2 linked regions of the Homo sapiens genome follow. The protein of the gene in region 1 purifies or fractionates together with the protein of each later gene. This does not show direct contact. Each region holds a gene or a part of one and is shown on either strand. Other genes may lie near its edges.

The links.
Region 2: the proteins of JARID2 (region 1) and MTF2 purify together in Homo sapiens (affinity purification with mass spectrometry; 3 studies listed by BioGRID and IntAct, with this or other methods). This does not show direct contact.

What each region holds. Positions count from the first base shown.
Region 1 is NC_000006.12:15,489,970-15,506,470, forward strand, and holds part of JARID2 (protein Jumonji), read left to right. Parts: exon of another isoform or gene 1-5,943; intron 5,944-6,162; coding exon 6,163-7,201; intron 7,202-10,937; coding exon 10,938-11,440; intron 11,441-14,530; coding exon 14,531-14,623; intron 14,624-16,501.
Region 2 is NC_000001.11:93,104,272-93,120,772, forward strand, and holds part of MTF2 (metal-response element-binding transcription factor 2), read left to right. Parts: intron 1-5,958; coding exon 5,959-6,157; intron 6,158-6,273; coding exon 6,274-6,355; intron 6,356-10,416; coding exon 10,417-10,512; intron 10,513-10,716; coding exon 10,717-10,817; intron 10,818-11,198; coding exon 11,199-11,347; intron 11,348-14,073; coding exon 14,074-14,169; intron 14,170-15,061; coding exon 15,062-15,130; intron 15,131-16,277; coding exon 16,278-16,401; intron 16,402-16,501. UniProt on the Homo sapiens protein: Polycomb group (PcG) protein that specifically binds histone H3 trimethylated at 'Lys-36' (H3K36me3) and recruits the PRC2 complex, thus enhancing PRC2 H3K27me3 methylation activity.

The sequences.
Region 1 (16,501 bases):
AATGAGACTTGAGATGTGATATTTAACCTTCCTGGGCCCTATTATTCCTTTGGAGCCAGTCTGGCCAACTCCTTATACCAGGGACATTGTGAGAAATAAAAGGAAAATTTTCAAACCCTCAGATCCTATTAGTTAAGTACTCTGAAAATAAGGTCAGTAAAAGCAAATTGTAGATTCCCTTGTGACTGCTTGATACAAGTGATTAGACTGTGACCTTTCATCTTTTCAACTGCATGAAAGATATGGGCCCAGAGGATACTCTGATCTTTCATTTCAAATATGATATGTGGATTTTTTTTTGTTATTGTTCAGCTTAAAAGCATAAATGTGACTGTATTGAAATGTGGAGGAATGTAATTTTTAGGGGGTGCTGCCGAGAAGTGCCTTTGCTCTGCTTGCTATAATGAACTGTGTGGGTGCATGCACCTGTCTTCCAAGTCTAAAACCACTTCCCCTCGTGCGAACTGGGCAATGCCATTTGATAGTGTGTGCGATTTATGGAGTCCCTAGAACCCGAGAGTTAGAACACACCAGTGCGTACTTCACCTAAGCCTTTTTCTTGGTGAGAGGGCTCTGGCCCCGGCCGTTTACTCTCGATTATACCAAATGAGCTGTCTTTGTCATGGAATGCACATGCCTGTATAACATTGCATTGTCATGGGGCTGGGAGTGCCCCTGGGTAATAATTTGGTTGTATGGTAAGGGTCTCACCAAGGAGCAAATGGTGTTTTTCTGTTGCTTTCCTGCAGTAGTACTTCTGCTTACATGCAGTGACAGAAAGTAACAAGTTTAGGATAGTCCAACAGACGAGCTTTATTTCTAGCAAGGGTTTTGAAGTATTAGTTTTCCAAGAGAGTCATGAGCAGGTTTTGTACTTGTGTAGAAATTTGTGTGGTTTGTAAGCCAGGATATTGAACCAGATGTGGCCACATGTGATTCTCATTTCTTACGCTGAGGCTGAGTGTGAGAAGAAAATGATCAACTGGCTAATCCCACTGGTTTTGCAGGACCTTCCATTGAGCTATAGGCTACTGTCACTGAAGAGGTTTTCATATGAAAATGTACAAGCCTTGCAGAAAAATCCTGCCCTAGTAAGATTCAGAGAGGGCCAAGGAATTGAGAATATTCTTTTAAAGTTCTGGAAAATACGGCTATTGAGAAGGAAACATAGAAAATCATATTAGTTTTTAAAAAAGTTAAAGGTTTTCTTCTCATGACATTATTTTGTCATTTGAATTGCACTTGCTGGTGGTGGGGTATTTGTGACTCAGTTACATTGCCTTCAGTGGGAGGAGAGGTTATAGGTACATCTAGATTGCCCAGTGGAACCCAGGCATCTCTTTTAGAGCACATTTGCCTTGGCCTTGGCCTTGGCTAGGAGGCTCCTGCCCATCTGCTGCTGCGGTCAGTGTTTGAGCAGGCTGCTCCTCCCCTTCCATAACTCACTGTCTGTCCAGTGCATTTCGCTTCTGTTTAGGCTCTTTGTTTTTGATTCAAGTTTTAAAGTGCAAATGGACTACCCCCAGCCACCAACTGTTTCTCTCTCTGGGCCTCTGGTTCTGTTTTGAAAGGCTGGCAGAGGCCTCGGCTCAACGGCTCCCTCTCGTGGAGAAGAAGAACTTGCCAGTGAATCTGAGGTTGAACTGAGGACAGCGTCATAATCTTGAACGACTAAAACATTTTTGCTTAGTTAACCAAAAACATCAGAGTCATTTCTCATCTTCTGCTCTGCCTTGGAAGTGCATGTTTCTCCTTTTCATCTGTCATCATACTGAGTTGATTTAAATATTGTGTGTGTCGGTGGTGGGGTGGAGAAAAACCCATAAGGATGGAGGGGAGAGATTTTATATTCTTAAAGCAAGCACACAGAGTGTGGATTGGGTACAGTTTTTAAGATGGAATTTCTGTTATTAAGAACAAAGTCAGGTAGGAACGTTTGATGTCCTGGACTTTCATATCTCTCACCTTATATCCCTTCTGCAAGAAGAATGAGGTATTGTTGCCAGTACTCATCTGGCCGAACGTAACTTGAAAATGCTCTCAACCTTGCCTGTTAAATTGAAACCATTCTCTTATGACTAGGAGGGATTGCTTTAATATCTCATGGCCGTGTGCCTGGGATCACCTGAGATACAGGTGACGGATGGCTGTGGGCCAAGGAGCACACGCTGCAGACACCTCACTTTCTGCAGAGCTGGGTTGGGGGCTGGGGGCAATGGGCTGAGAAGCCAGAAATCCACAACAGAGCTGAGAGAAGGAGTAACTTCAAGCACTTATGTATAAAGCTGCTCAGCTGAAATGTATTGTCATTCAATGGAGGGTCCTGCTGTAGCCCACGTCGGCGCTAATTCTTCAGTGAGTTCAGATGACTTCCTGTGTGTGCTCTTCTGTGGAATCCCTCAGGACGTGCAGCGGTGGCCTTCCTTGTAGTGCACTGGCTGCATAACTGGGGCTGTGTGGTTTTAATTGATACAGAGGTGGGTTGAGGGAGACCTTCGGTAACAAGGTAAGACAATGCCTTCCTCCATTCTTCTGTTTCCTTTTGTACTGATTAAGTGTTGGCTCCTTATAGACAAGTCCAGGCCAGGAAAAGGGGTGTCCTTTTGTTAGATTGGTGGGTCCCAGGTTTCCCCACAATGGTGGTGCTGGCTGGGTTGTTGGTTCTGTTTTATTTCTCCCTTTTAGGACACATGGAGCAGCTTAAGGGGCTTCCTATGTTAGCTTTTCAGCTCCCCTGTGGCCTCTCGTGGTGGGCATAGAACACGGACCCTCTGGGTTTCGAGGAGGAAGATGGCCAGTGACACTTGCCTTTTTCAGTCTTCGTAATTGTTTGAACTTCGCTGGTCTGTGTTGTGGGTGAGATCCATCTAGTCTTTGAGCTTGTTATATGGGCATGCGTGTGTGATATCTGGGTGGATACTGTTGAAGATAACTCCTATAATAAGAAGGAAAATATTGCAACTCATTTCTCTCATAAAGCAAGTTATTTGAATGTATACCTTGCCAATAATTCAGTATTTAGGTTTTCAGAAAGATGTAAACAAGGTGTTCCTTTTGCCATTGAAGATAGTGATATATAGAATTCAGCTGTGTTGAAAATTTACTTCCCTGTAGCATTGCTAGCCATGAACTCAGGTGCCCCCGAGAAGCCAGAATGGATGGAACCAAAGGCCTTACACTCTTATTTGAGATAGAATATGAGAGACATAGCACTCTGGTATTTGGACAGCGGTGTTAGGGAAGGGTAGGGTCCACGGATTTGTGGGAACACTGAGACATCTGAGGCTTTTAAACACTGATTCCCTTTCTTGATCCTCACCAATTAGCACAGAATCTAGAGGGAAGGGATTTACATTATTTTGAAGCTCCCCTAAGGGTTTTAGGGGTGCCAGGTTTGGAAAACACTGAACTAAACCTCAGCAAGTAGTGGTGGCTGATGCCTGAACCTCACAGGAGTTGGGTTATGTCCGGCACCATCTGGAGTTTGCCATTTTGATTAGCGATATACGAAGCCGCACTGTGTCCGTCTCCTTAAGGAGACTCTTGTGCTGGGAGTAGGGCTGAAACAGATTGCACCCCTACAGGTTAAAAGGAGATTGAGCCAACTGTAGAGGTGTTGTCTTTTGCTGTCTGAACCTGAGATAGAGCCCTTCCCCAAGGTCCTGGATTCCCTGAGGCCCATTCCCCCACCCCCACCCAGCCCCACCAGCCTTTGTTGCTGGAAATAAAGATCAGCCCCAGCTGGAGTTTACTGTTTGCTTTTGTTTTTCTAAATGTTTTGTCTTGTTTTGGTTTTAGTGGAAGCATTTGAAAGAACAATTAAAACTAAGAGATTTGCATTCCTCACTATACCTCCTCTTGCAGATTAACAGTACTTACCACGGAATATTTCTGTTTGTCCTTACCCCTGGTTTTATAAATCTGTTTTAAATTTATCATTGCCAGGTGCTTTTTTTCCTCTCCAAAAGGGTTTCGCATTATTTATTCCAGACCGTCTGTCAGTCCCACTTTTTTTATGGGTGACTCATGGTTTAAGAGCCAGAGTGTGATTCCTGGGTCTTCGCTTCTGCCTCTTCATGGGGCCTGAGATCTGGCTCTAGGAATGAGGCCTCCATGGGCCTGGCTCCTAAGAGATGATGTCCTACCAAGAATTTGTGGCTTTGATTGGACTGCACTTAATTGGTGGCATATAGAGAAATACAGGTCTCAGTGGCTTCTTTCCTTTTTGATTTTTATAAACTTCACTGATACTTCATTCAGTGGTTCCAAGCGCGGTCCCCAGGTCAGCACACAGCATCACCTGGGACTTGGTTAGAAATGCACATTCTCAGTCCCATCCCAGACCCTCTGACTTGGACACTCTGCCGGTAGGGCCCAGTGATGTGTTTACATCAGCCCTCTAGGGGATGCTGAGAGCCACTGGTTTGGATGTTTTTGGCAAGTCTTTTTTTTTTTTTTTTTTTTGAGACAAGAGTCTCGCCCAGGCTGGAGTGCAGTGGCATGATCTCGGTTCACTGCAAACTCCACCTCCTGGGTTCACGCCGTTCTTCTGCCTCAGCCTCCCAAGTAGCTGGGACTACAGGCGCACACCGCCACACCCAGCTAATTTTTTGTATTTTTAGTAGAGACGGGGTTTCACCGTGTTAGCCAGTATGGTGTCAATCTCCTGACCTTGTGATCCACCCGCCTCGGCCTCCCAAAGTGCTGGGATTACAGGCGCCTTTGGGAAGTTTCATTCCATGCCCCACCCCCACTTAAGGGGGGTCCTGGGCCAGGCCTAGGTTTAGTACAAAGGTCACTAAGACTCATTACCCGCCATCTGGGGACCTTCGTCCCCATGTGACAGCAGCCTGCACAGCCTTGTGGTGGCACTGGTGTTTCAGTACCCTCTGGGCCATCACTGCATGTGGCCAGCTCTCCTGACCAGGAAGTGCAGGCTCCCCCGACCCTGGCACCTTCCTCTCGGGCTGTTGGGGAGAAGAGGGGGCTAGTATTCTGTGTTTCTCAGTAATTTTGTGATTTTTAGGCTTCTTCCTTTGGAGATGGTGGTGGTTATAAAACCCTGAAGTCCCTGACTTTAACCTCATATCATAGACGAAAAGTAATGCCCAAGGTGTTAAGTGATGGGGCAGTGGCCACATTGTGACGCAGAGAAGACATCTTCTCGAAACCAGCATGTCTGGCAGCAGCCCATTGGGGTCCCTTCATTATTCTTGTTTGAAGCTTGTGCATTTCTAGTGTCTGCCATTGTCGCTCCCCATTTTCGCTGACGTTTGTGTGTCCCAAGATTACCACGGCGTCCAAGCTGTAAGACTGTCTCTGTTTGCCCAGGTCCCATAGAACCTGATGGGAAAGTTTGTCCAGGGTGGAAGATACATGGGACAGTTTGTAAACGGTGGGAAAATATAGGAAGCGCGTGTGCAGACGAGGGTTGGCATGTGTTGCTTCAACAGTGAGGTCGGGGCATCCCTCTTCCATCCAGCCTGGCCCTGTCCAGGGCTCGTCTCCACAAGGAAAGCAGACAGCAGCTGCTGACAGTTTGCAGCCACACCTCTGGGCCTGGCCTGCCACCCGGAGCCAAACCACATGAGCACTGCTGTTCTTTTGCTTCCATAGTATTTTTGTTTTCCTTCTTTTTTTAGCCATAGATTTCTAAATCCTGTGGGCAGGTCATGCTGCTATGTGGAGCACAGAAATAGCAGACATGACTTTTCTTGGAACAGGGATATGTGTGTGTGTCTGTCTCCACTTCCCCCAAGGAAGCAGGATCTTGCTGTCATCAACTCTGAGAAGCTCAGGACAGGTGATTGCATGGCACGTGGGGAGGTCTTCATTGTGAAACACCAAATTTCCTGGAAGAGCAATGGGAACGTGAAAATGCACCCAGGAAACCCCGCTAGGAAGCGCCTGGGGCAGTTTGCATACTTCTGTGACGAAGGATAGGTATATAGTGGATTCTGAAAGTGGACATCGCTGCTTAATTCTTGGATGTGTATTTTGCTTCTCTTTGCTGGTATTTCCACATCTCTTCTTATCACACTACAGGCTGCTGGCTCTGTTCATCCCCAGCATCCAGGGTCCTTTCTCACGGGTGGGCCGGTCATTTTAGTGGCAGGTACTAATTCTGCGTTTTTTTCCACCTCTGCTTCTGCTGCTCCACAGGTTTCTAAGGTAAACGGAGTCACTCGAATGTCATCTCTGGGTGCAGGTGTAACCAGTGCCAAAAAGATGCGCGAGGTCAGACCTTCACCATCCAAAACTGTGAAGTACACTGCCACGGTGACGAAGGGGGCTGTCACATACACCAAAGCCAAGAGAGAACTGGTCAAGGACACCAAACCCAATCACCACAAGCCCAGTTCCGCTGTCAACCACACAATCTCAGGGAAAACTGAAAGTAGCAATGCAAAAACCCGCAAACAGGTGCTATCCCTCGGGGGGGCGTCCAAGTCCACTGGGCCCGCCGTCAATGGCCTCAAGGTCAGTGGCAGGTTGAACCCAAAGTCATGCACTAAGGAGGTGGGGGGGCGGCAGCTGCGGGAGGGCCTGCAGCTGCGGGAGGGGCTGCGGAACTCCAAGAGGAGACTGGAAGAGGCACACCAGGCGGAGAAGCCGCAGTCGCCCCCCAAGAAGATGAAAGGGGCGGCTGGCCCCGCCGAAGGCCCTGGCAAGAAGGCCCCGGCCGAGAGAGGTCTGCTGAACGGACACGTGAAGAAGGAAGTGCCGGAGCGCAGTCTGGAGAGGAATCGGCCGAAGCGGGCCACGGCCGGGAAGAGCACGCCAGGCAGACAAGCACATGGCAAGGCGGACAGCGCCTCCTGTGAAAATCGTTCTACCTCGCAACCGGAGTCCGTGCACAAGCCGCAGGACTCGGGCAAGGCCGAGAAGGGCGGCGGCAAGGCCGGGTGGGCGGCCATGGACGAGATCCCCGTCCTCAGGCCCTCCGCCAAGGAGTTCCACGATCCGCTCATCTACATCGAGTCGGTCCGCGCTCAGGTGGAGAAGTTCGGGATGTGCAGGGTGATCCCCCCTCCGGACTGGCGGCCCGAGTGCAAGCTCAACGATGAGATGCGGTTTGTCACGCAGATTCAGCACATCCACAAGCTGGGCCGGCGCTGGGGCCCCAACGTGCAGCGGCTGGCCTGCATCAAGAAGCACCTCAAATCTCAGGGCATCACCATGGACGAGCTCCCGCTCATAGGTAGGTCTGGGCGGGGGGTCAGGGGGTGGTGCCTGCCCTCCTGCCCCCAGATCCCTGCAGTTCCCTCACAGTCTTCACGTTCTCTTCCCTTGCGAAAGCTCCAGTTCCGCTTCCCTGTCTCGGGAGTAGTGGGCTTCTCAGCTCATTCCCCCTGCAGCCCTTCTTCCCAGGTCCTGGGCGTTGGTGGCAGGATAAGAATGGTATTGAGCTGCCGGGCGCGGTGGCTCACGCTTGTAATCCCAGCACTTTGGGAGGCTGAGGCGGGCAGATCATGAGGTCAGGAGATCGAGATCACGGTGAAACCCCGTCTCTACTAAAAATACAAAAAAATTAGCCGGGCGTGGTGGCGGGGGCCTGTAGTCCCAGCTACTTGGAGAGGCTGAGGCAGGAGAATGGCGTGAACCCAGGAGGCGGAGCTTGCAGTGAGCCGAGATCACACCACTGCACTCCAGCCTGGGTGACAGAGTGAGATTCCGTCTCAAAAAAAAAAAAAAAGTATTGAGCTTGGATCTGGGGTGAGCCCCCACTCTGGGTCTGGGCCCCTTGCTTCCCCTGGGCTGTCACCTCCTACCCACAACTGCTGGAGTTAAAGCAGGGGCCGGGGGGCCAGTGGGGAGCGCTGCCCCTCTGGATTCCACACTGGATTATAGAGGCTGGAAGCCCAAGGTCTAGGGGCCAGCAGGGTTGGTTTCTCCCGAAACCAACAAGACCTCCCTCCTTGGCTTGTGCATGGCTGTTTTCTCCCTGTGTCCTCACAGGGTCCTACCTCTATGTGTGTCTGTGTCTTCATCTCCTCTCCTTAGAAGGACATTGGATTAGGGCCCATCCTACTGACCTCTTTCTAACATAATTACCCTTTTGAAGACCCTGTCTCCAAATTCATTCATGTCCTGAGGTACTGGAGGTCAGGGCTTCAACATATGAATTTGGAGGGATCACCATGCAGCCCATAGCCCTCTAGGGTCCTGTAGGCCATTTTTTATCCTGCTCAGCCTTGTCTCTTCTTCCTCTGAGCTTCAGTTTCTCTGGCGATTTTGTCAAGGCCACAGGTCAAGGGATCTGTTGACCTTTTTTCTGAGACCAGGTTTTTTCTGAGACCTTTTTTCTGAGCTCTGGCTGGGGCTGTTGGAAACTTGTCACAGTGGATCCTTAGTGAATGCATATCTGGGCTGTCATGCAGACCCTTGCTCCTCAGGGTGGGTTGCAGGCAGATCCTCCTCTTGGGTTCCCCTGTAGCCCTCCTTCCCTGTCATCCTCTCTTCAGTCCTGCCACTGGGGACACAGGGTGAGGATGAACTTGCCTTGTTAAGGCTAAGTGGATTCTGTGGAGTGAGGTGCATCCAGGTAAGGTTGCAACCCCATCAGTCTAGACCCATGGGAGGAAACAGGCCACACCTCCATTTTGGAGATCCTCAATTTTCAAAGGCATGGAGACGTGTAGCCATCATTTAAGTGTCAGGGATTTGGCAGCAAGATAGGCTTCCAGGCAGGATGGAGGTTTCGTGGTTCCCCTCAGCAGGTGCCTGCCAGGACTGATGCCTGAGTGACAGTCACCTTAACTTGCAAGAGTTCTTGGTTTGTGCTCTGCTGTTGGGAATAGCACGTGATAGGAAGCAGTGCAGGGAGCAGGCTCTGCACACGCGTGCACCCACGCCCGCTGACCACGCCCCATGACTACTTGGGACACAGGATGACTGAGTCAGTGATGGAACCGCACCAAGTCCTCCTGCCTTTGGAGACCTGCAGACAGGAGGGAAACATTCCAAGTTTCCCTCCTCTGCTAGGTGGATGATGGAGCCTCGAGAGCACACTTGACATCGTAGTGACAGCGCCTTTTGTTTAGAGTAGGTTTTTCTTTACCCTCGACTCCCTTACCCTGGGACAAAAGCCATACTGTGCCTCCCTGTGGTGTGCTTATGCTTGTTGCCGTCACCCAGAAGTCTAAGGCGTCTGACATTCTGTCCCAGGGGTACTGACCTGTCTGTGACCCAGCAAGGCCTCAGGGCTGGGGTCTGAGCTCAGCCATCTGACAGTGGTAGAAACTTAATAACTTTGAAGTAATAGCCTAAAATCCACCCCAGCAGATGTGCCTTCTGCCTCTGTGTAGGTTCACTTCCACCGCAGGTCCCAGGGAGCCGCCGTGCCGCTGGCGGGAGTTGGGTGGGGAAGGGGCTCGGCCACGTAGCAGCCTCAAGGCCCTGAGTGGGAGTGATCGCAGCGGATGAGGATTCCATGAAGAATTCTTGCAAGCGCTGTGTGATTTTCAGGTGCTCTTGCGTTATAATCTACTTAGAGTGAAATATGAAAGTGTGGATTTCCTCCCTTCTGTGACCTGTGTTCTGAGTCACTCGGACGGTGGAGGACTTGTTTTGGTTGGGGGACTCGTTTTGGTGCCTACCTCTGTAAGTTGAGACAGTACCCACCTGCCCTCGGAGGAAGAACTCCCGATTGTCAGCCAGAGCCACCGTGAGTCCCACCTGTGACTCTGGGAGTCTGTGAGACCTGGAGTTTGTTGTGGAGTCTCAGTTCTTAGGTCCCTCCTGTCGAGGCTGGGGACAGTTCCCTCATGGATGTTACCCCAACTCCCCTGTTCTCCACAACCACATCAGTCCACTGTCCTGCCATTTAGTGTGAGTGGAATTCAGGCTGCTGTGTCCCCATCCCTGGTCTTGCTGGTGTGCTGGGAACTCGCTCTCTGTGTGTGCTGTGTCTGCCGAGGTGGTTCAGACGCTTCACCTAGTGGGTCCTGTCATGCTTGGTATGTGCAGCGACCCTGCCTGGACTGGATCCGTGCACACTTTACCTTTTATTACTTAAAAACAATATATCCCCACACTCTAAAGATTTAAAACGTTGTTAATTTGTACTTTGTTTAGTATTTTGTTGATGGTTATTTTGGAAAATCTCCCCTACCCCCCTTCCTTTATTTGGCCCGAGGGAGGTTGCTTTCTCCATTCCCATCTAGAAAAGCCACTGGGCGCGCGTTAAAACCTGCCCAGGTTTGATGTGCATTTGCGCTGCTCTGTGGCCTGATCAGGAGGGGCACTGAGCACCAGCTTATGCACTGAGAAGCAGCCCGCTGTCTGGATGGGCGAGGGACGAGGCATAGATGTGCTGCCCTGTGTCCTCACGCAGGTGTTGCTCTTTGCTCTGGAAATCCAGCAGGATGGAAAATAGACTTCCTTTGTGTGAGTGAGTGGGTGGATGGGTGAAGTTGAGTGAGTGAGTGGGTGGGCATTGGGAATTATAGAAGGGGAATTGGGAGTTGGTAACAAGCATGTGTCAAAGCTATTCTAGGTGACGCTGGGCCGTGGGTGCAGCCAGGACCCCTACCCACTCCTCACCAGGGAGCTAGTCTTCTCATGACACCCGCCTCCATGTGACAACACATGTACCAGTACATGGTACACTGGGATGTTCCTCCCTGTATGTCTGTCTGGCCAGCTCGCATCCTTTTCCAGCCAAGCCCCAGCTTAAATGCTGCCTCCTCAGACGCTCCCCACCTAAAATGGTAGTCCCTCGTTCCACCTGCTCTTCGTAGCAAGTGGTCATGACCCATCATTTTGTAACGCCCTTCTCTCTGTGGACCGGGAGTCTGCTGTTCACCACTCTCACCCCAGAGCCTGTCAGAGTCCTGGCTCATAGTAGGAGTTCAAGAAGTACAGGTTGAATGAGGAACATCTTGTTCGTGTCTCTTTCACTAACTGTCCCGTTTTTTTCCCCTTCGCTGTCCCAGGGGGCTGTGAGCTCGACCTGGCCTGCTTTTTCCGGCTGATTAATGAGATGGGCGGCATGCAGCAAGTGACTGACCTCAAAAAATGGAACAAACTAGCAGACATGCTGCGCATCCCCAGAACTGCCCAGGACCGGCTGGCCAAGCTGCAGGAGGCCTACTGCCAGTACCTACTCTCCTACGACTCCCTGTCCCCAGAGGAGCACCGGCGGCTGGAGAAGGAGGTGCTGATGGAGAAGGAGATCCTGGAGAAGCGCAAGGGGCCGCTGGAAGGCCACACAGAGAACGACCACCACAAGTTCCACCCTCTGCCCCGCTTCGAGCCCAAGAATGGGCTCATCCACGGCGTGGCCCCCAGGAACGGCTTCCGCAGCAAGCTCAAGGAGGTGGGCCAGGCCCAGTTGAAGACTGGCCGGCGGCGACTCTTCGCTCAGGAAAAAGAAGTGGTCAAGGAAGAGGAGGAGGACAAAGGCGTCCTCAATGACTTCCACAAGTGCATCTATAAGGTAGGGGCCTCCGCAGAGCAGCCACTCCCAGCTGCAGGAGTGCGGGAGGAATGAGAGAGGAAGTGGAGCGTGCTATGCACTGGACGGTGTGTTCTCTGATTCCCTGGGGTGATGAGGGGGCGGGCCACTGTGCTGGGTGATAGCGCTGTATTAGTCCTCTCGTGTTGCTGAAATACTACAGACTGGGGAATTCATAATAAACAGAAATGTACTGGCTCCTGGTTGTGGAGCCTGGGAAGTCCAATATCGAGGAACCTAGTGAGGGCCTTGTGGGTGCGTTGATGGGGCAGCAGGAGACCCAGTGAGGGAGGGGAAGTCCACTCCACGAAGATACCACGAGTCCATTCCGCCTGCCTAGGGCCTCGGGTTTCCTTTTCATTAACTGGCTTGCGTGTGCGTGTTGCATGCACGTGCACACATCTCCATATGCCAGGGATAAGTAACTGGGCTGCATGCTTCGTTTCCCCTGCTTCTCCAGTTCCGTTTCATCCTGGTGCTCGACAGCTGCCCAGATCCAGCTGAACTTCTCACTGGCTGGACCGTCAGTGGACTCTGTGCGCTTGTTTTCTCTGTTTTCTATCCGCTCACCTCACTGCCAGCCCAGCGTTGCCAGGTCCTCTCTGTGGAGAGCTATCCCTGATAAAGCCATCAAAATGAATCTCACCATTCACACGCTGTGGAGGGAAGAGCTGGGGAGAAACCAGCAAACTGAAACATGCAGCGTTTCCCTGTCTCCGCCAGGTCTCCCGGCAGCACACTCATCCTGAGGAGACTCGCCCCTCCAAGAAGCAGGGGAGGCAGAGTCCGTGGCTCTCCTCTTGGCAGCTCTCCCAGCTGTCCTGGCTCTGAAGCAAGGCTTGGGGTTTCCTCCCTTCTCCAGCCTGCCAGTGGGTAGCGGGGCACCCGGGGCCCAGCTGGCCGAGCTCAGCTAAGTTGAAGTCTCTGCTGAGTTTCCCGGCACAGACTTGTCCTCTGTGGTCCCAGTTCTGGATTCACTGGAAGGGAAGCGTTCTCTGCTCCAGCCCTCGTGAGCCTGGTGGGAGTGTGTGGCTAGTGGGTTTCGGCAGCATTGGGAATTGGCTGTTGGTTATCACTAAACACCACCATACCCTCAGGTGCCCACGGCTGCCTGACTGCAGGCTCTGGCCTGGCCTTGTAGTTGAGGCAATGCGGGCTTCTGATACCATCACACATCTTAGAAATACGGAGGAAGGGTTGACTTGACTCCTGGCGTTGCTGCTTCACTTTAAGTCCAGGCCCTGCAGACCCGCCTCAGGCTGCATCTCATGTCCTTGCACACTTCTCTGGAAAGAGGTACCCAGTTTTTCTGGCCTGAGACCCTGAGAGGGTTTGGCTCCCTTTTATCTGAGTCTGCTCTCCCATTGCCCAAGGCTGCCTGGTGGGGATGCGGTGTGGGGGTTGCTGGATGCAGCCTGCCAAGTGTGACCCAGAGACTGTAAGCTCTGAGGAACTTTATTTGGTGTTTCCTGAATGTTTTACTGAGAAGCCTTTGTCAAGTAAAGCCACTCAGTGAATCCTGTGACTGAATAGCCAACTGGTGAAATGAGAAACTGTCAACGTTTTTACTTTTTACTGAAGGAGGCCAATTCTGTGAGCGTATGTTTGATTCAAATAAGAGGTTTGGATTTGTTTAAATCCACCCCGTCAAGGGTATTTCTAGATTTCATCACGGAAATATAGTGGAGCTCTGCGTGGTGGCCATGGCGAAGCCCCCAGCAGCCGTGTGCCCACGGGTAGGGACCGTGAGCACGCAACTCTCTGTGGCACCGGTGTCCTGGCTGCTGACTTTGGTCTGCTGGTGTCATCCTCACCTCCACTCATTGCACTCTGCCTTGGTGCAGAATTCAGTCCCTCCTTTTTTATATTTACAAGAAACAGACTATCAGGAGCGGCTTGGAATTTGCATGGAAGTACGTTCCTGTAGTTAGAACCCCATCTAGTTCCTTTGCTGCAGGAGAGAAAGGCACAAGCCAATGTCTCCATGCCGACTACGACTGTGGACCCAATGGCAGAAAGCATCTGCTGCTCCCTGTTGTGGCCCTATCACTTCTAGGGGGACGCTGCGGTGTCCAGTGCTCCGCAGGGAAGCCTTCCCTGACCACCCTCCCCCACTCTACATGACACCTGGCACCTCCTCCCATCCCATATTTGTGTGTTTGAGGCCTGTGTCTTCCCCAGACTGAATGGAAGCTCCTCGAGGTTTTGTGTGTTTCATGCACTGCTCTGTCTCCAGCCCCTAGGATTTGACCTAGTACACCATAGGTGCTCAGGAGATATTTCTGGACTCAAGCAACAAATGTGCCCGGTCAAGTAAGAAAGAAATAGCAAGGGTCTTAGATGGATTCCCTCTGAAAAACGCACCACATTTCGTGTGGTAGGTAAAAGAAGGTGCTGACTCCGGATTCCCAAACTGACTCAGCTGTTTTATCAAAGCAAGCAAATCATTCTGGAAGTTATTGGGAACAGGGCAACAGAGGGGCATCGAAGAAGAGGCGCAGAGGGGACAGCAGGTGGTTCTGTGGAGAGAAGGCGACCAGGTCGCAACCTCAGTGAAGGCTGCTGCCCTGGCAGGTGTTAATATGGCAAGGACTCTCAGGGTGTAGATGTCGCACCAGTTTCTGTCTCTCCAGCTTCTCTCCTGTGGGATCCCTGGTCACGAGTTCCATCAGGTCATAGCTGCTGATAGCTTCTCCGCTGGCCCGCAGCAGCCTTTGTCAGCTGAGGGATTCTGCCTCCAGCACAAGCTGCTTTTTCAGCAGAGCCTTGGAGGGGCCTTCCGCGCTTCTGCTGTGCGTCCGCTCAGGGCCTCTGGGCGGCAGCCTCTGTTCCTGGCAGAACAATTTGGCCCTCATGGGGTTGATCCTTGGTGGAGTCTTCCCACTCCTCTTGGCACTGCGGGTTCTTAGAGAATATATTTCTTCCTTCTCTGCCTGTCATTAACTCAGAATACAAGGTGGCCCACAGCCGCAGGGACGCCAAGGGGCAGCGGCCCATGACAGGTGTCTGGCCTCATTTGCAGTAGGGTTCAGCTTTGCTTCTGAAGCTTTACTGTTTTTTGTTTTGTTTCAGGGAAGGTCTGTTTCTCTAACAACTTTTTATCGAACAGCGAGGAATATCATGAGCATGTGTTTCAGCAAGGAGCCTGCCCCAGCCGAAATCGAGGTGAGAGAAGGGGCCCCTCACGCTGCCTCTCATGGTGTGGGAACCCCTCGGCGAGCTGGAGGACATCCTGTCCTGCCCTGACCCCTGCAGCTCGGTGAACGGAAAGGACTCAGATGGGGCTGAGTTCGTCCTCTGTGTTGAGCGTGCACCAGGGCAGCCAAATGTTTTAACTTAGGTTGATCTAAACTTGTTCACAAGCCAAAAACACTATAATGAAGGTGGGGAGCTGCCGAGTGCAGGGGACGGGTTCTGGGCACGTCCCCTGCTCCCCGTCACTGTCTCCTCCTGCTTGCTCACCCGGCTGTTTCTCACCCCATCCTCTGTGTGTCTGTTATGCAAGAGAATGTTTGGAATCCCTTGAAACCACAGTTGTGCTTTTTCTTCTCTTCTATTTTTTATTTAATGGGATTGGCAGATTGCCATTTTTGTGCTTCTGCCAACTCTCTTCTTTGAGTTAGTATGAGGTTGGAAAGACAGTGAGCACTTCTGTGCCCAGACCAATTAGGGGGAGTTTTTGTGTGCGGCGCTGCAGGACAGAGACCGGATCTGTTTATTTACCTCCCCTCGGCCAGTGCCCAGCTGAGTCCGTGTGAACTTCCAGCTGCTGACGTCGGTGGGCTCTCAGCAGCGCTTGGTCGTGGAAAGGGAAAGAAACCAAACCCGGACTGCTGGTTCAGGGCAGCTGCCGGCCGGGGAACAGGAGGTATTTGCTGACCACAGCCTCATCTTTTAGTGTGTGACAGGCTTTTGCTGTGTTTTTTTTTTTTTTTTTTCCCCTTAATGCCACCTGTTTCAAATAAAATCCAAGGTCGGTTTGCCCCGTGTATACATGCTGACCACTGGGGGTTCAGGTATCTTGTTTTGCCCAGGTTTTAGACCTGTGACCTTCAAACCTGCTCAAACCAGGACAGCTGGTCACCCTCCCTGGGTGGCGTTTGGTGCCCCACCTCCTGATAGCAATTGTCAGAGCTTAGGATGTCCAGCCCTGTGGCCCACCCCTCCCTTCCTAGTGTGGGGAATAGAGGTTTACCTTTCACGCCATTTTCATCGTCTTAGGACCTAGGTCTCTGCTTACGTGCAGGGGCTGCCTACACTGTGTACCCTGGGTGCGGCTGTTGAATGCCACGCAGTGGCCTGACACCCGGCCTGTGGTCATGATTACCGTGCTGCAGCCGCCACTGCCTCACCCACCACCAGCCACGATGTCAGCTGAACCGTGGTCTAGGACACGTGTGGCTTCCGCAGCTGCTTCCAGAGCACGCGTTGCGTTTGTGGTAGAGATGTCAGGCGGAGGACACTTGGCTTTCTGGGGCTGAGCGTTGGACCTGGGAAGAGGCCTTTATTGCCAAACAACACGTGTCCTGTGGGCATCTCCCCAGAGGTGCAGAAGTTTATTATCCATGATGCGCAAGAAAACTTAGCTCATTTTACAGCCTCTTATTCAGGAATTAATTCCCTCTGAAAGTCTGGATTTTGCTCTAGCAGTTGTGTAAATATTTAAACACAAAGGGGAGATTTGCTAGAATTTAAACTTCAGGCCTGGATTGCCTAGCTTCTTGTGCTCTGTATTCCAAAAAAGGCTGGTGGACAGCCCCTGGAGTTGGCCACCACCTGGGAGCAGTCCCTTGCTTCCCTTCCCATGTCTTTACAGGCGCACCAGACGCTGGTTGCCCTCAGTTTCAGCAAATACGCAGCAGGCTTGGGCACTCAGGGAGTCTGTTGAGGGAATCCAGTCATTTAATGTGGAATTCGTTCTTGATTTGTGGAGCTTGACTCCGCCAGGTCGGCCCCCTCTTTGTGGAAGTCACACAGCATTGAGGAAAGTGGTTTTGGTGTTGCTAGTAGCGCTTTGTGGAGCTTAACTGGACCCTATGATGC
Region 2 (16,501 bases), on another chromosome or scaffold:
AGGATTTATGTTTATGTGGGTAAAAGGTTGATGTGTATTTGTCTTAAATGTGAATGAAAGTAGAGTCTATTTTTTACTTAAAGCAAAACAGATGATTTGTGCTTAGAGACATTAGATTAAAAATGTACCCCGGGCGCTGTGGCTCAGGCCTGTAATCCCAGCACTTTGGGAGGCCGAGGCGGGTGGATCACAAGGTCAGGAGATCAAGACCATTCTGGCCAACATGGTGAAACCTTGTCTCTACTAAAAATACAAAAATTAGCTGGGCGTGGTGGCATGCACCTGTAATCCCAGCTATCCGGGAGGCTGAGGCACAAGAATTGCTTGAACCCAGGAGGTGGAGGTTGCAGTGAGCTGGGATCGTGCCACTGTACTCCAGCCTGGTGACAGAGCAAGACTCCATCTCAAAAAAAAAAAAAAAAAAGTAGATAAAGATGAAAAGTTAAACTCTTTAAATATTGGTTAGATAAAAAAATTAACTCCTTAAATATAGGCGTTTCTTGACTTGAACTATATAAATTCTGCATAATCTTTCTGCCGTTTATGTATCATGCCCTATGCAGAGATTGAGGATACAAGTGTGAATAAGAGACAGACATTCTCGGCCGGGCGCGGTGGCTCACGCCTGTAATCCCAGCACTTTGGGAGGCCGAGGCAGGCAGATCACGAGGTCAGGAGATCGAGACCAAGGTGAAACCCCGTCTCTACTAAAAATACAAAAAGTTAGCCGGGTGTAGTGGCGGGCGCCTGTAGTCCCAGCTACTCGGGAGGCTGAGGCAGGAGAATGGCGTGAACCTGGGAGGCGGAGCTTGCAGTGAGCCGAGATAGCGCCACTGCACTCCAGCCTGGGTGACAGAGCGAGACTCCGTCTCAAAAAAAAAAAAAAAAAAGAGACAGACATTCCCTGTTTGGGGGGAGGTTAGTGGGTTATATTGAAGTGGGCCGAAGACTGAAAAGGGGAGGAGACTATAGGAGTGGAGACATTAAGCGTGTATAACTTTACCCCGAGGTTTGCTTGCAAATGGGAGGAAAGAGTAGGAAGTGGTGGGAACGGAGCACAAAGAATCAAGAGAATTTAGTTATTCTACCCCCCATCCCCAAGATCCTTGCAAGTTTTTAAGCATAGTTGAATGCTAATGGGAGGGTGCCCAGAGAGAAGATTTATTGAATGCTGGCTCTGGTTTGTATCCTATAATAAACTTCATCAAGTTATAATCTGTTTTGCAGTTGTAGTTTCCTCATGTAAAAAGGGATCTGTAAAATCTCATCTGCAAAAATATCTCTAAAGCAGTGATCTGAGTATTAAATTACCTCTATATATCTACTGCCTGGCACAGTATGTGGCTCATAATAGGGACCCAAAAATGATTTGTGAATGAATATGTTGAATGTTGTTTGTGTGTGTGTGTGTTTTTTTTTTGAGACCAGAGTCTTGCTCTTTTCACCCAGGCTGGAGTGCAATGCTGCGGTCTCGGCTCACTGCAACCTCCACCTCCCGGGTTCAAGCAGTTCTCCTGCCTCAGCCTCCTGAGTAGCTGGGATTACAGGTGCCAGCCATCACGCCCGGCTAATTTTTGTATTTTAAGTAGAGACGTGGTTTGGCCATGTTGACCAGGCTGGTCTCAAACTCCTGACCTCGTGATCTGCCCGACCCGTTCTCCCAAAGTGCTGGAATTACAGGCGTGAGCCACCATGCCCGGCCATGAATGTGTTGAATGTTTAATGTAGGGTTAGGGACTTGGTAATCTCAGTAATTTTTTCCTGGAGGTTTGACTGTGAATGGAAGGGAAAAAATGAGGAGGTGGTGGGAAGGGGGCATAAGGAATCAAGGGTAACTATAATTAGGTTAGGTCTCATTTGAGACACAGCACACCAGAAATATTAGGAGAAGCAGGGCATAAACACTAGGAGATGGAAAAATAAAAAAATGTTTGATACCTTATGACCTAAGGATGTGCTATGCAGCAGGAGTAGTACAGTGGAGAGTAAGACAGAGACAGACCTTGCCATCCTGAAAGAAGGGGATAATTTATTGAAATAATAGCAAAGCATATGAAACTGGGAATGTTTGCAATTTTTATTTTTGTACAGTTTCTACTTTGGAATTCTAGGTCTTAACGCAGACCTGCCATGGCATTCTACTGAGGTCATTTTTCACCCATGATTGATTAATTGTTCAGGCTTTGGCTATTTTTTTTTTTTAACTGAAGGGATGCAAAATCCCTCAAGTGAACACTGAACTTAAAGCCTTTTTTTTTTTTTTTTGAGACAGACTTTTGCTTTTGTTGCCCAGGCTGGAGTGCAATGGTGCGATCTTAGCTCACTGCAACCTCCACCTCCTGGGTTCAAGACATTTTCCTGCCTCAGCCTGCCAGGTAGCTGGGATGACAGGCATACGCCACCACACCAGGCTAATTTTGTATTTTTAGTAGAGACGGGTTTTTTCTCCATGTTGGTCAGGCTGGTCTTGAACTCCCAGCCTCAGGTGATCTGCCCACCTCGGCCTCCCAAAGTGTTGGGATTACAGGCGTGAGCCACCGCATCCTGCCCCTTAAAGCTTTTTTCAAAGTTGATTGCTAATAGAGTTATTCCCATACTGTGAAGCCGTTAAATTGTTTCAAAATCTGGAGAAAGAGGATTCTTACCCTCTCCTTGAGCATCCCTGATGATAATTCATTGTGATTCTTCCTGCATTTTTACTTCTGTTCTCTTGCACTGATCTTGTCAAACATTTAAACTTTTTAACCCCTCTAATTATACTACCAAAAGTGCCTTCTCCTCACAGCTGACTATGGCACAGAAAAAACAATGTTAGATAAAATTGCTTTGTGCCTTAGCATGAATCAAGGCAGCGGCATCAAACTGTACTTGTATTCTTCATTGTGTACTAACGGTAAAAAATATAAACACACACACGTACCCCCAAACCTTATTTCACTTAAGAATGTTTTTTGTTTGTTTGTTTGTTTTTGAGATGTAGTTTTGCTCTGTTGCCTAGGCTGGAGTGCAGTGGTGTAATCTTGGCTCATTGCAACGTCCGCCTCCCAGGTTCAAGCGGTTCTCCTGCCTCAGCCTCCCGAGTAGCTGGGATTACAGGCACGCGCCACCATGCCTGGCTAATTTTGTATTTTTAGTAGAGATGGGGGGTTTTGCTATGTTGGCCAGGCTTGTCTTGAACTCCTGGCCTCAAATGATCCACCTGCCTCGGCCTTCCAAAATGCTGGAATTACAGGCATGAGCCACCGTGCTGGCCAGGTTTTTAATATGTGTGATAAAATAGAAATGGCATAAGGCACTTGTGCCATTGTTTGAGTTGCCAGCTGAACTAGCAGCTTTTTCATGGAACACCATTTTTACTTGAAACAGCCACTTAGTTCTGTATAAGGCAGGTATTTTCTTGAAGTGACAATCTACGTTTTATATTGACCTTAATTACCATTTTTTTTTTCGTTTGTTCTTGTGAATTCAAGTTAGCATCTTGTGTCTGTCCTTCCTTCCATTTTTCTCTTTTCTTTTCTTCTTTTCTTTTGACAGGTTCTCTCTCTGTTGCTCAGGCTGGAGTGCAGTGGCACAATCACAGCTCACTGCAGTCTCGACCTCCTGGCCTCATATAGTCCTCCCACCCCAGACTCCTGAGTAGCTGGGACCACAGGCACGTGCCACAATGCCCGGCTAATTTTTATTTTTTAATTTTTTTAGAGACATTCTCCCTTTGTTGCCCAGGCTACTCTTGAATTCGGGGTCCTCCTGCCTCAGCCTCCCAAAGTGCTGGGATTACAGGCGTCAGCCATGCTGCACCTGGCCTGTGTCATTTCTTTGAAACAGTTGAAACAGTTTTGCTCCTACATACTTCCTTTATGCTATTATTGCCAAATATATTACATTTCTATATATTATGGGTCTAACAATACAATTATGTACATATTGTTTTATATACTTGCTTTGGAGGGAATATGCATTTATGCTGTCTTTTATAATTACTTTTGTTGGTATTCTTTGTGTGTGTGTGTGTGTATGTGTATGTACATGTATTTGAATTTCCTTCTGGGTTTACTTACTTTCAATCGTAGTAGTATTCATTGTAAGATGTCTCTGCTAATAACAAATTCAGTTTTTGTTTATCTGGGAGTTTGTATTTCACCTTCATTTTTGAAAGACAGTTTTGCTGGATATAAGATTCTCTGGTGACAGCACCCACTCCCTGCAGCCTGCTTACTTTGAATATGTCATCTCACTGCCTTCTGGCCTTTATTGTTTCTGATGAGAAGTCAACTGTTAATCTTATTGGGGTTTCCCTGTACGTGATATATTGTGTTTCTCTTGTTGCTTTCAAGATTTTTTTTTTTTTTTTTTTTGCCTTTCAGCATTTTTACTATGATGTGGCTGGGTGTAGATCTCTTTGCATTTATCCTACTTGGAATTTGTTGAGCTGCTTGGATGTGTAGATAATGTTTTTCAGCAAATTTGGGAAGGTACCAGTTATTTCTTTGGATATCTCTAAAATGTATTTCTTTCAAACTGAAACACTCCGTACCCATTAAACACTAACTCCCTATTCCCCATTCTTCCTAGCCGTTGGCCGCCATTCTGTTTTCCATCTCTATGACTTTGAGTGTCTAGGCACCTCATATAAGTGGAATAGTTGTCCATTTTGTCTGGCTTATTTCACTTAGCATAATGTCTTCAAGGTTCATCCGTGTTTGAGCATGTGACAGGGTTTCCCAGAATTTCTGTATTTTTAGATATTGAAGTTAGATATTCCTAATACTTAGGAACTTTTTGAAACTTTTTTCTTTAATTTCCCTGCTCATTTTATTTTTACTAAACTTTTATGCTGTTTTTAGAATTATTATCTAGTTTTACATGTCACTGTATGTTTAATTAGTGAAAAATCTAATTTGGAAAAGTGAAACCAAACACTGCTTTGTTACCTTTAAGAAAGCTGATGGTGGTATGCTTTGCTGTTTATGGAATGTCTGATACATAAGTTATAATGTAATTTCACAGTATTTAATATATATTTTTTTCCTTTAAGTACTCTTATAGTGTACTTTCCTTTTTTTTTGTTTTTTTGTTTTTTGAGACAGAGTCTTGCTCTGTTGCCCAGGCTGGAGTGCAGTGGCATGATCTCAGCTCACTGCAACCTCCGCCTCCTGGGTTCAAATGATTCTCCTGCCTCAGCCTCCCCAGTAGCTGGCATCACAGGTGTGTACCACCACGCCCGGCTAATCTTTGTATTTTTTAGTAGACACAGGGTTTCACCATGTTGGCCAGGCTGGTCTTGAACTCCTGGCCTCAGGTGATCCACCCGCCTCAGCCTCCCAAAGAGCTGGGATTACAGGCATGAGCCACCGCACCTGGCCTTATAGTGTACTATTTGTCTATAATGTAATGAAATTGCTGGTTCTCAATGTTTTTTTTTTTAAACTCTCAGTCTGCATATTTGCTCAATTCAGTGGTGATTCCCTGTAAGGAGAAGGTCATGACTGCCCTTCCTTTGAGTGTGAAGAGTGTGAATAACACCAGCTGTCCCTTGAAGTCACTGGTTAATGTGTCTTAACTGCATGTGGCATAATCAAGAGATTAAAATGTAATTCACTTTTATTCTTTACCTAAACCCAGTCATGAGATTCAAGACATTATTTGCTCATGATCATGGCCTGCATACCTCAACATAAAGCTGTTATTTTGATGGCAGCTGCCTTGAATGTGTTATCTTGGAGTGTTTGCTGAGTCTTGGCCTCACTTAGAGTAGGCAATGAATGGATATTGAGAATTGTTATCATTTTGTTTTAAACTGCTTTGTTTGGAGAGTATTTATGATTTGAGGTACTTTTTATATTTTTGTCTTAAGGTTTTTAACAAATTTAAAACTTTGATTAACATATAAAATATCCCACTGGTATAAAATAAGCTCTACAAGTAAGTCTTATGTATGGTCTTTTATTCTCTAAACAGAGACTCTACAGGGGCAGGTAATTCACTGGTCCACAAGCGGTCTCCTTTACGTCGAAACCAAAAGACCCCAACATCCTTGACCAAGCTGTCTTTACAGGATGGACATAAAGCCAAAAAGCCAGCATGTAAATTTGAAGAGGGTCAGGATGTCCTAGCTAGATGGTCAGATGGCTTGTTTTATCTTGGCACTATCAAAAAGGCAAGTTACTTTAATGTATCTTTTGCTGTTTTTGCAGTAAGCATTTAATAATCTTAAATTTAACTTCATGTTTTTAATTTTAAGAGATCACCGTTAAGTATTTCTCTGTATTGCAGATAAACATATTGAAACAGAGCTGCTTCATCATATTTGAAGACAGTTCTAAATCCTGGGTTCTCTGGAAGGACATTCAAACAGGCAGGTGCTACTATTTCTCTTGAACATGATTTAAATTAAAATTTGATTTTCTTCAACTTGTCATATTATGATGTTGTCTGTTGAATACAGTGTATTTAGATAACTCAGTATTACTTCCTAGGAGAGGTTAAAAAATCAGCATAGTCGTTATTATAGACCATAAGAAGAACAAGAATACTCTAGAGGACAGATGCATCACTAATTTATACCTGTAAGCTATGTTAAGACCCTTCTAAGAACTTTGAAGAAAAATCTTTAGTAACTAATCTCAGTAACGGTTTGGGATTCAATTCAACTGTTGCTTGCTTATATTTGTAGAAAGCAAGTGTTTATTGGGAGCATACTGTTTGTCAGATGATTTGGGAAATTAGGACATATAAAACTGATTTAGAATAATAGAAATATTCGTTAATAAGAATGGTTTAAAATTACCATTTAGTTATGGGTTTTTTATGTTTAAATGGGAAAATGAGGCTATATTTGTGTGCCAATAAAAATGAATGAAAGTATGCCTTGGTTTGGTTATAGGTATGCTTCTTGTGATGATTTCTATTATTAGAAACCATGATTGTTTCATGCTTTTAGCATCTGCTAAATATAGATGTTTTACCAGGTACCTCTTTCATGCAAAGTACTTTTAAAAATTACAATCTCTACTAAAAGCCTGAGTATTTTAGCTGTTCATTAAAGCCCTACTTTTGGTTTTCCTTTTGCTGGGTTAATAGGCCTACACTAAGACCCGTGTTTTGTGTATTCTCATAGAAAAGAGATAAATTTTCTCCCTAAAGGGTAGACACCTTGCCAAAGTATTTAACAATTGGGTTTTATATTTGAATACCAAGTTCAATTTTATGGTAGGTTTCTGCCATGTTTTAGTTCTTGACTTTACTCTTAATGTTTCTTAAAGAATAAAAAAAGTTTTGGTAAAGGAATTGGAATGTTCTAATTACCATCTGTATAGTTGGTACTCAGGGCTTAGGTGGGGAACTAAGTAGCTTTTACTCTGGTAAAATGTTTTTCTGGAGAAACTTTTTATGGTTCCTGGACTGATAAGTTTAAAGGACTAAAATTACATTTTGAATCTGAAATTGAGGAGCCAGAGAAAAGTGTGACTCATAAGATTTAAAGGGATAGGAGATCTCCAACACTACTAATATTGAGCAGATCTTACTACCCTGCACACAAAATTATTCTTTTTTCCTTATTTTGTAAACATAGGTCTCTCTGTAATAGCAGTGAAACATGTTATGCTGCTTTTTACTCCCCTTCCATTAGCTATGTGTTTCTTTCAGCTTTTGAAGATCTTTTGGAGTTTCCTGTGGATTTAATGTAATAGGTCTGTCTGTCCTTTTGTCTACTTCCTCCTTTCTACTTCTCCTCTGCTTTTAAAAGTGGTAGAAAAGAAGAAAACCAATGTTACATAGAGATAGAAAGTTGTTGTGTGAGGGGTTCTATAAGTCCTGCACTCAGTATGTCAGTTTAATGTTCTGTGGTTGTTCTTTCTTCACTGGTTCCTTTTGCTGTTCTTGGAATTACAAAGGATTGCTCCTGGTCATTTAACTCTTCTTAGCACCCTGATATTAGCACATATGAAACTTATAGTTGCTATAAAAATGAATAAATGAATCTGAAACCTGCGTTATGGCATATTTCAGTGAGGAGTGGGTTTAGTAGTTTTCTTCCCTGTAAGAAATCTGCCAATAATGTATATCAAAACTTAATAAATTATATTTGTCTAATGAGTTTCTTTTAAAAATTTTACATAAAGAAAAATATTAGTAGTCAACAGGGTGAAATATATCATGTTACAACTATTACATAAATGTAAGAGGGTTTTGAATCTTAGCATCTAATGCTGTTTTGGTTTCTGTGAAATGATATACTCTTGCATTGCTGGTGGCAGTGTAAATTTCTATTTTGGTGGTTTAGCATTTGCATTAAATGCAGAAGTTTATAATTATCTAATAGACTCCTTTCTAGCAGTTTATTCATAAGAAGTAATTCAAAAAATACTAGGTGAAAAATGTTTCCTGAAGTTTATTTTAACAACAACAAAAAATTTGGTATTTCTAAGATGAAATGGCCAAGGCTTTCTAGTCAATTGGATTTAGAGTAAAGGAGACTATAGAAGATTACTAAGCTATATAGGAAGGTTCTTGTAAACTTGATGGTAAAAAATATATACATATATGTTTGATTTCACAAGTAAAAGTTAATTCCCAGCTTTCTCAGGATTGTTTCTTGGGTCACTACCCCCTTTTCTGAGGAATTGCCTTCCCCATCATTAGTCCAGGTAGTTACAGTGAGAGTCAGGTCAGGCACCTCCCCTCGCGGGGCTGTTGTTCCATTTCCAGGGAATTGTAAATTTTCACAGAGAGTTCCCAGGCTTAATCTGGTTGCTCTCATGATCGGAACCATAAACCCAGAAGCTATGGGAGACCACCTTCAACGAAGTGTACCAAGAAGCAAACAGCTGGGCGCAGTGCCTTATGTCTGCAATCCCAGTGCTTTGGGAGGCCCAGGCAGGAGGATTGCTTGAGCCCAGGAATTTGAGACCAGCTTGGGCAACACAGGGAGATCCTGTCGCTACAAAAAAAAAAAAAAAAATAGGCATGGTGACACACACGCCTGTGGTTCCAGTTACTTGGGAGGCTGAGGTGGGAGCATTGCTTGGGCTTGGGAAGTCAAGGCTGCAGTGAGCTGTGGCTGTGCCACTGCACTCCAGCCTGGATGACACAGCAAGACCCTATCTGAGGGGAAAAATAAAAGGAAGCAAACAAAGCAGAAGAGAGAGGATGAGAGACCAGAACAAACAAATAAATAGCAGAAATACAAAAGACAGATTTCTCCCCCTCCAAAAAAAGAAAAACAGTTGGTAACCTGTATGTCCGAGAGTAGAGTAATAATGAAGTAAATTGGGTTATTTCCACTAGATGTAATACTATGCAGCTATTAGAAGTTACAATTTTGAAATGAAAAATGATTTTCATTTTCAATTTTGAGTGAAAAATGCTTTTGATAGAAGAAATATTACATAGTATTGATGAAGCATCTCGTAGTGGAGAGAACATGGATTTTGGCACATCTGGATTTGAATCCTAGTCTTGATGTTTTCTCAGGGTCTTTGGGTTAGTTACTTTGTCTGAGCCTCAGTTCTTCTCTATAAATAGTATATTTATAAGTTAGTTGTAGAATTAAACAAAATATATCAAGATCCTACACAGTGCTTGGCCCATAGCACAAAATTATAAGTTTTTATTGTTGTTATGTATATAAAGGCTGTGTATTGTGAATTTGACTCTGCTGAAACAGACAAGATGAGAATACTGGAAATGATAATGTGTTAGGGTGGTAAATTGTATTAGAAATTTTGTGTGATTTTTTTTTTTTGAGAATAAAAATGTCTCAGGAAGAAATGCTTCACTTGTTCTGCTAAAAAAAATTAATAATTTTGGGACCCCCAAATTTTGTTGAAATGATATTTTGTTAGGGTACATTATTGGATACCATATTTTCAGATTTCAGAAGCTAGAGATTAAATAATTGGTGTTCAACCTGTTTAATAAATTAGTAAGTAAAAGGAAATGCTCTGAATTGAGCGAGAAAGAGGTAGTTTACTTATCTTCCTTACTTTTTTTCTTTAATTTCATGGTATTAGTGGTGTAGGATAAGTGAATGTATGTACATGAATAGATAAGTATTCTATAAAGTAGCTCTAGTGTTCACAAACCTTCTCTATCTGCTGTCGCCCATCCCTCATCTCCACCTTCACCTTTAAGAGTGGGAATATGAGAAATGAGTAATAAGGGAAGATGCTCAAGAGCAATTTAAATTATGCCTTCTGCCAAAAAGCAGATTAAATTATGAAAGTAGGCATGTTAAGTTAAAGGTAGAAAGAACACAGAGAGCAGAGAGATACCATTCGTGTACTTTGTCTTGTGAAGCATTATGATGTACTTAGCAAACATTGCGCATATGTGCTGCTCACTGAGTCATAAAAGTGGTTTTGTTTTATGGAATTTTTTATGACTCTCTTTTTTAATGTGTTTTAAATATTTTAGGAGCCACTGGAAGTGGGGAAATGGTCTGTACAATATGTCAAGAAGAGTATTCAGAAGCTCCCAATGAAATGGTTATATGTGACAAGTGTGGCCAAGGTAACCATTGATTTCTTTTAATCTTGTTACATACTGAATGACTATGTTGAAGATTAATGACTAAAAATACTTTACATTGATAATTTGAAATTATCCTTTTTATTAATTATATTAATGTAGGAAATAATGCTAAAATGCATTCTTGAAATTGTGTTGAAAGTATTAATGAAACCGAATTTGCTTTATGCTTTTTTTGATATTAAGGATATCATCAGTTGTGTCACACACCTCATATTGATTCCAGTGTGATTGATTCAGATGAAAAATGGCTCTGTCGGCAGTGTGTTTTTGCAACAACAACAAAGGTATATTTTAAGTGTTTTGGGCTAAAGCTCTGATGGAATTTGTAAGACATTATCAACATAATGATTGTGTACACTGAAAGTTTGTTGGAATGAAATGAGCAATGAATGCTGGGTAGAAAGAGGTGCTATTTATTTGACTAATGATGCTTAAGTGACTTTTTAATGATGCTTTCACTTATTTGATGATAGTAATACGGGAATTGGTGCAGTAATTTGAAAGAAGAAAAGAAAAATAGAGATTATTATTAATCAGACAGTTTGTGATATGGTAAAAGTTTGGAAAGGAAATTTCTCCAGAAGTGTCAGAGTCGTTTTTAAAGTATAGAATTGTGTTTAAAATTTTAGCCTTCACTCTTTCACATTTTTTTCCCTCTAATGTAGAGGGGTGGTGCACTTAAGAAAGGACCAAATGCCAAAGCATTGCAAGTCATGAAGCAGACATTACCCTATAGTGTGGCAGACCTTGAATGGGATGCAGGTCATAAAACCAATGTCCAGCAGTGTTACTGCTATTGTGGAGGCCCTGGAGAGTAAGTAAATACAGTTATGTAATTCCCTTTAAGTAATTTTTATTTACTTATCTATTTTTCTTGATTATGGTGTGTGAGTGATGGTGAATTGCAACTGCATGAACACATCAGTGAAGAAAACCAGGGGGAAAATCTATTATTTTCATAAAAAAATAATTTTCATCTAGTTTTTGATCATATCCACACATTAAAATATTTGTATAAGTCTTATATTCTGGAAATTTAAAGTGAATTATAAATATTGTCATAAAATTAACTATTGAGGGAAAACATTTACTGCAGGGGCCCAGTATCAGTAGTTTCATTGGATGTCATATTTAATGTGATTGACCATTTAGAAACTGGTATATTTAATATTATAATTTAAATGGGAGAGTAAAAGACAAGTTTTTTAAGACATAAAATCAACATGGAACTTTTTCACAGATAGATTACTGCTTTCTTCTACGTATTTTCATTTCTTTCTTAAAGTGATAGGGCACAGATTGTAGTGCAGTGACATGATCATAGCTCACTGCAGCACTGAACTTCTGGGCTCAAGTTATCCTCCTGTCTCAGCCTCCGAAGTAGCTAGGACCACAGACACGTGCCACTACACCTGGCTAATTTTAAAAAGTATTTTTTTTTTTGTAAAGACAGGTTCTTGCTACCTTGGCCTCCCAAAGCTGGCTGGGTTTACAGGCCTGAGCCATGCTGGCCTGGAGTAGCATTTTTATTTTCTTCCAGAACTTTTTCTTTGCATATACAGTTTGGCCAGCTGTTTGGTGCAAGAGGCCTAGCTTTTGGCCTATCTTGGCTTTTGACATACCTTCCTAACGTTTGATTTAAATTTAGAGACTTGTGACTCTTCCTTTCATTTGAACACTTAGAGGCCATTGTAAGATTTTTTTTTTTTTTTTTTTTGAGACAGGTTCTTGCTCTGTTGCCTCGGCTGGAGTGCAGTGGCATGGTTATAGCTCACTCCAGCATTGAACTGGGCTCAAGCAATCCTCCCATCTCAGCCTCCTGAGTAGGTAGGACCACAGGCATGCGCCACCACACCCTGCTAGTTTTTTAAGTTTTTTTGTGGAAATGGAGTCTTGCTATTTGTCCACGTTGGTCTCCAACTCTTGGCCTCAAGTGATTCTCCTGCTTTGGCCTCCCAAAGTGCTGGAAATACAAGCATGATCACCACGCCTGGCCCCCACTGTAAGATTATTAATTAGCCTAATTTCAATATTGTGTCTCAGGGAATAGGAAGCTTGAGGAGAGGGAGAGGGATGGGGACTGGCTGGTTGATAGTAGTCAGAACACATGCAACATTTAGTGATTAAGTTTGCCATCTTAGGTGGGCACGGTTTTTGGTGGCCCAAAATAGTTATAGTAGTAACATCAAAGATCACTGATCACCATGAAAGATACAATATTAATAATAATGAAAAAGTTTGAAATATTATGGGAATTTCCAAAATGTGACACAGAGACATAAGGTGAGCACATGAACCTAGAAAAATAGTGCTAATAGACTGAATCAAGGTATAGCTCTGTTTGGAAATGGTGCCTTTTATTATTTTCCGATAAAGATAACCGTATCAAAGTTTGGAAATGGTGCCTTTTATTATTTTCAAATAAAGATAACCATATCAAAACCACATACTAGCTGGGTGTGGTGGTGTGTACCTGTACTGCCAGATACTTGGGAGGCTGAGGTGGGAGGATCCTTTGAACCCTGAAGTCCAGCTTGGTCAATGTAGCAATGTAGCCCTGTCTCTTAAAACAAACCCAAAATCCATGTGCTAACTGAAAAGAGAAGATATATTTCTTAGATGAAGATTCAATTTTAGCATCTTTAGCTTTCTCAAACAGATCTATAGACCATACATTGAAATATAGCTAAACCTGTCAAAAAGCCTTTATACCTGGTAGAGTCTTAGATTAGATTTATGATAATGTTAAGCAGGTTTATTAAATCGTTATATTCTTTTTATTATAGCTGACAAGAATAATAGAAACACAGTAAAGATATGAAGTGGAATGTTTATAATCTGAAAGCTGCCTAAGGCCATTTGATATTTGGGGCAAACAACAGTACCTCTGAATCTGACCTCTCCTGGGGTTTAGAGAGTTGATGTGAAAAAAAGCCCAGAGGCCTGGCATGGTGGCTCTCGCATGTGATCCCAGCATTTTGGGAGGCCGAGGACAGAGGATCACCTGGGCCCAGGAATTGGAGACCAGCTCTGGCAACACAGGGAGACCTCAGTTTTACTTAAAAAAAAAATTTGCCTAGCTTGGTGGTGCATGCCTGTGGTCCTAGCTACTTGGGAGGCTGAGGTGGGAGGGTCACTTGAACTGGGAGGTTGAGGCTGCATGAGCCATGGTCATGCTGCTGCACTCCAGCCTGGACAACATAGCAATACTTGCCTCTTTAAAAAAAAATAGCCTAGGCTTGTGTTTTAACAGAGCTCATTTGACTAGTGTAGGAGCCAGGCATTTTTGACTAGAAGTAGTAGTGTATCTTTCAAGAGCTTATAAAATTTCATGAATAAAAGAGAGAAGAGGGATGAAATAGCTGATACTATAAGCCTTTTTGGGAAAGGAAATATTTACAGTAAGTATAGTAGAAATGTGATGCTTTAATTAGAACAGTATTGTGGATTAGGCCACTTTTTTTTTTTTTTTTTTTAAAGAAATGAACCTTTCCCTTAAGACAGGAATTTTAGTGTTAACTTTTTTGTTTTTTTTAATAGCTGGTATTTGAAGATGCTACAGTGCTGCAAATGTAAGCAGTGGTTTCATGAGGCTTGTGTGCAATGCCTTCAAAAGCCAATGCTATTTGGAGACAGGTGAGAAGGGCATTTGAACTTTACTGGCTGATTTTTGTCACTTTTTAATTGTGGTTATATTTGTGATTTCAGATTTCCTAAAGATAGTTTCAACAGTGATTTGGAAAGGGGTTGTCTCAGAGGGAAAATATTAAATAATATACTTAAAATATACGTAATTTTTGTGCTTTTGGATTTTATTCCAGAATGCTTTTAAGTATTGTCAGTGATTACATTTGCTCCTATTGACCCATAGTACTCTAAAGTATTCTCATTGGTACCTTCCTTTAAAGAACCTCAAAGGGATAGTATTAGAATTGGAAAAGACCACAGGGCCTTGTTAAAGACACAACTATACTTTAGATATGAAAAATTTGTAAAAGCAGACTTAATGTACTTTCTATATTAGAAGAATGCAGGGTAGCACAGTGAGCTCCAGGAACAAAAAGCTAGACCACTAAGTTTGACATCTGAAAACCTGGTTTTAAAAATCTTGGCTTATGCCACTTAATTTTCTTTCTGACCTTAGGGAAGTTCACTTGTCTCTTTCGGGCTTATTATGTTATTTTGAGCGTTGAATTAAACTATGTATGTGGGGGCAGCCATCACAATTCCTGGCACACACAAGCGATTAGTAAACTATAAGTACGTGTGAGTCTGTGTGTGAACTTTGAAGGTCTCCAATGGTTAAAAACAAAGATCCTTTCTCTTCACATATGAACTGTTTCATTATTTGTTATTGGAAAAGAACTTCCTTCAATCACAGAAAGCATTATAATTTAAATTATATTTTGTTTTGAGTATCAGTCTTTATATCAGCTGTAGGTTATTCACTTGGTGAATATTAGCTATAATTGTTAGTTTATCTCTGATGACTCAGTATAAAACTTTTTCTTTTTTTTTTTTTTCTTAGATTTTATACGTTTATATGCTCTGTCTGCAGTTCTGGACCAGAATACCTCAAACGTCTACCATTACAGTGGTAAGTGTGGACCTTTCTGTTAAAAGAAAGAAAAGCCATTTTCTTAAACCTACAAGTTGAAACTTTCTATATACATTTACTTGGCTTAAGTAAAAATAGGTTATTTATGCTTGGCTTTATTTCTTTTATTTATCCTCATGCCTGATGTCATCTTCACTAAGTAACATCCACTTGTATTGCTAAATTAATAAGGCTGTTCAGTGTTGAATGTTATAAATGAAACTTTCAGATATCCTTTAGACCTAAATTCTTACTCATATTTCTAGTTCTTTTGAACATTCAGAATACCATACAGTAGAAGAGAGATAGGTATAACAAATATGCTAATTTCTGCTTCAATGTAGTAATTCTTGTGTGTTGGAAGTGTGATGAATTTTAGAGGTTTACTAATAAAATGCTTACAGTAAGTACTTACAAATCTTTGTTGTATTTTACATATTTTATCAACAGATAGGATTTAACCCATGAATCAAATAGTTTGGTTAAGTATGGTATATTCTGTAGCTTATATCCGGAAGTGAAAACACAAAAATCTTGATTTTAAGTTATATTTTTTTAAAGCCAGACCCTCTTTGAATGCACTTGAAGAAGTAATTTGTGGCCAGGTGCGGTGGCTTTCGCCTGTAATCCCAGCACTTTGGGAGGCCGAGGTGGGTGGATCTCCTGAGGTCTGGAGTTTAAGACCAGCCTGGCCAACACGGTGAAACCACGTTTCTACTAAAAATACAAAAAAATTTAGCCTAGCGTGGTGGTGGGCGCCTGTAATCCCAGCTACTCGGGAGGCTGAGGGAGGCTGAGGCAGGAGAATCGCTTGAACCCACGGGGCGGAAGTTGCAGTGAGCTGACGTTGTGCCATTGTACTACTCCAGCCTGGGCAATCAGCGAAACTCTGTCTCCAAGAAAAAAAAAAAAAAAAAAAAGAAGTAATTCATATATCTTCTAGTTTATAGTTGCTATTCAGAATAAGTGAATGTTTAGTCACTATTTTCTAGTTATTTTTATGTGTAGTGATTTATTGTATTGTGAATATGACTATCCACCTAAATATTTCTCTTTGCATTTTAATTACTGTTTTATAAGGAAACCGTGATTTTTTAACAGTAACCAAAAACATTGTTTTGTGTATTTGATTATTTTCGGATTCCAGGGTAGATATAGCACACCTATGCCTTTACAACCTAAGTGTTATTCATAAGAAGAAATACTTTGATTCTGAACTTGAGCTTATGACATACATTAATGAAAACTGGGATAGATTGCACCCTGGAGAGGTAGGTGGTCTGAGAACTAACTTCAGTAGCTACTTGATGTCTTTTTTGTTTTGTTTTGTTTTTCAAAAAACAACTGAGACACATGTATAAGTCAGACAAC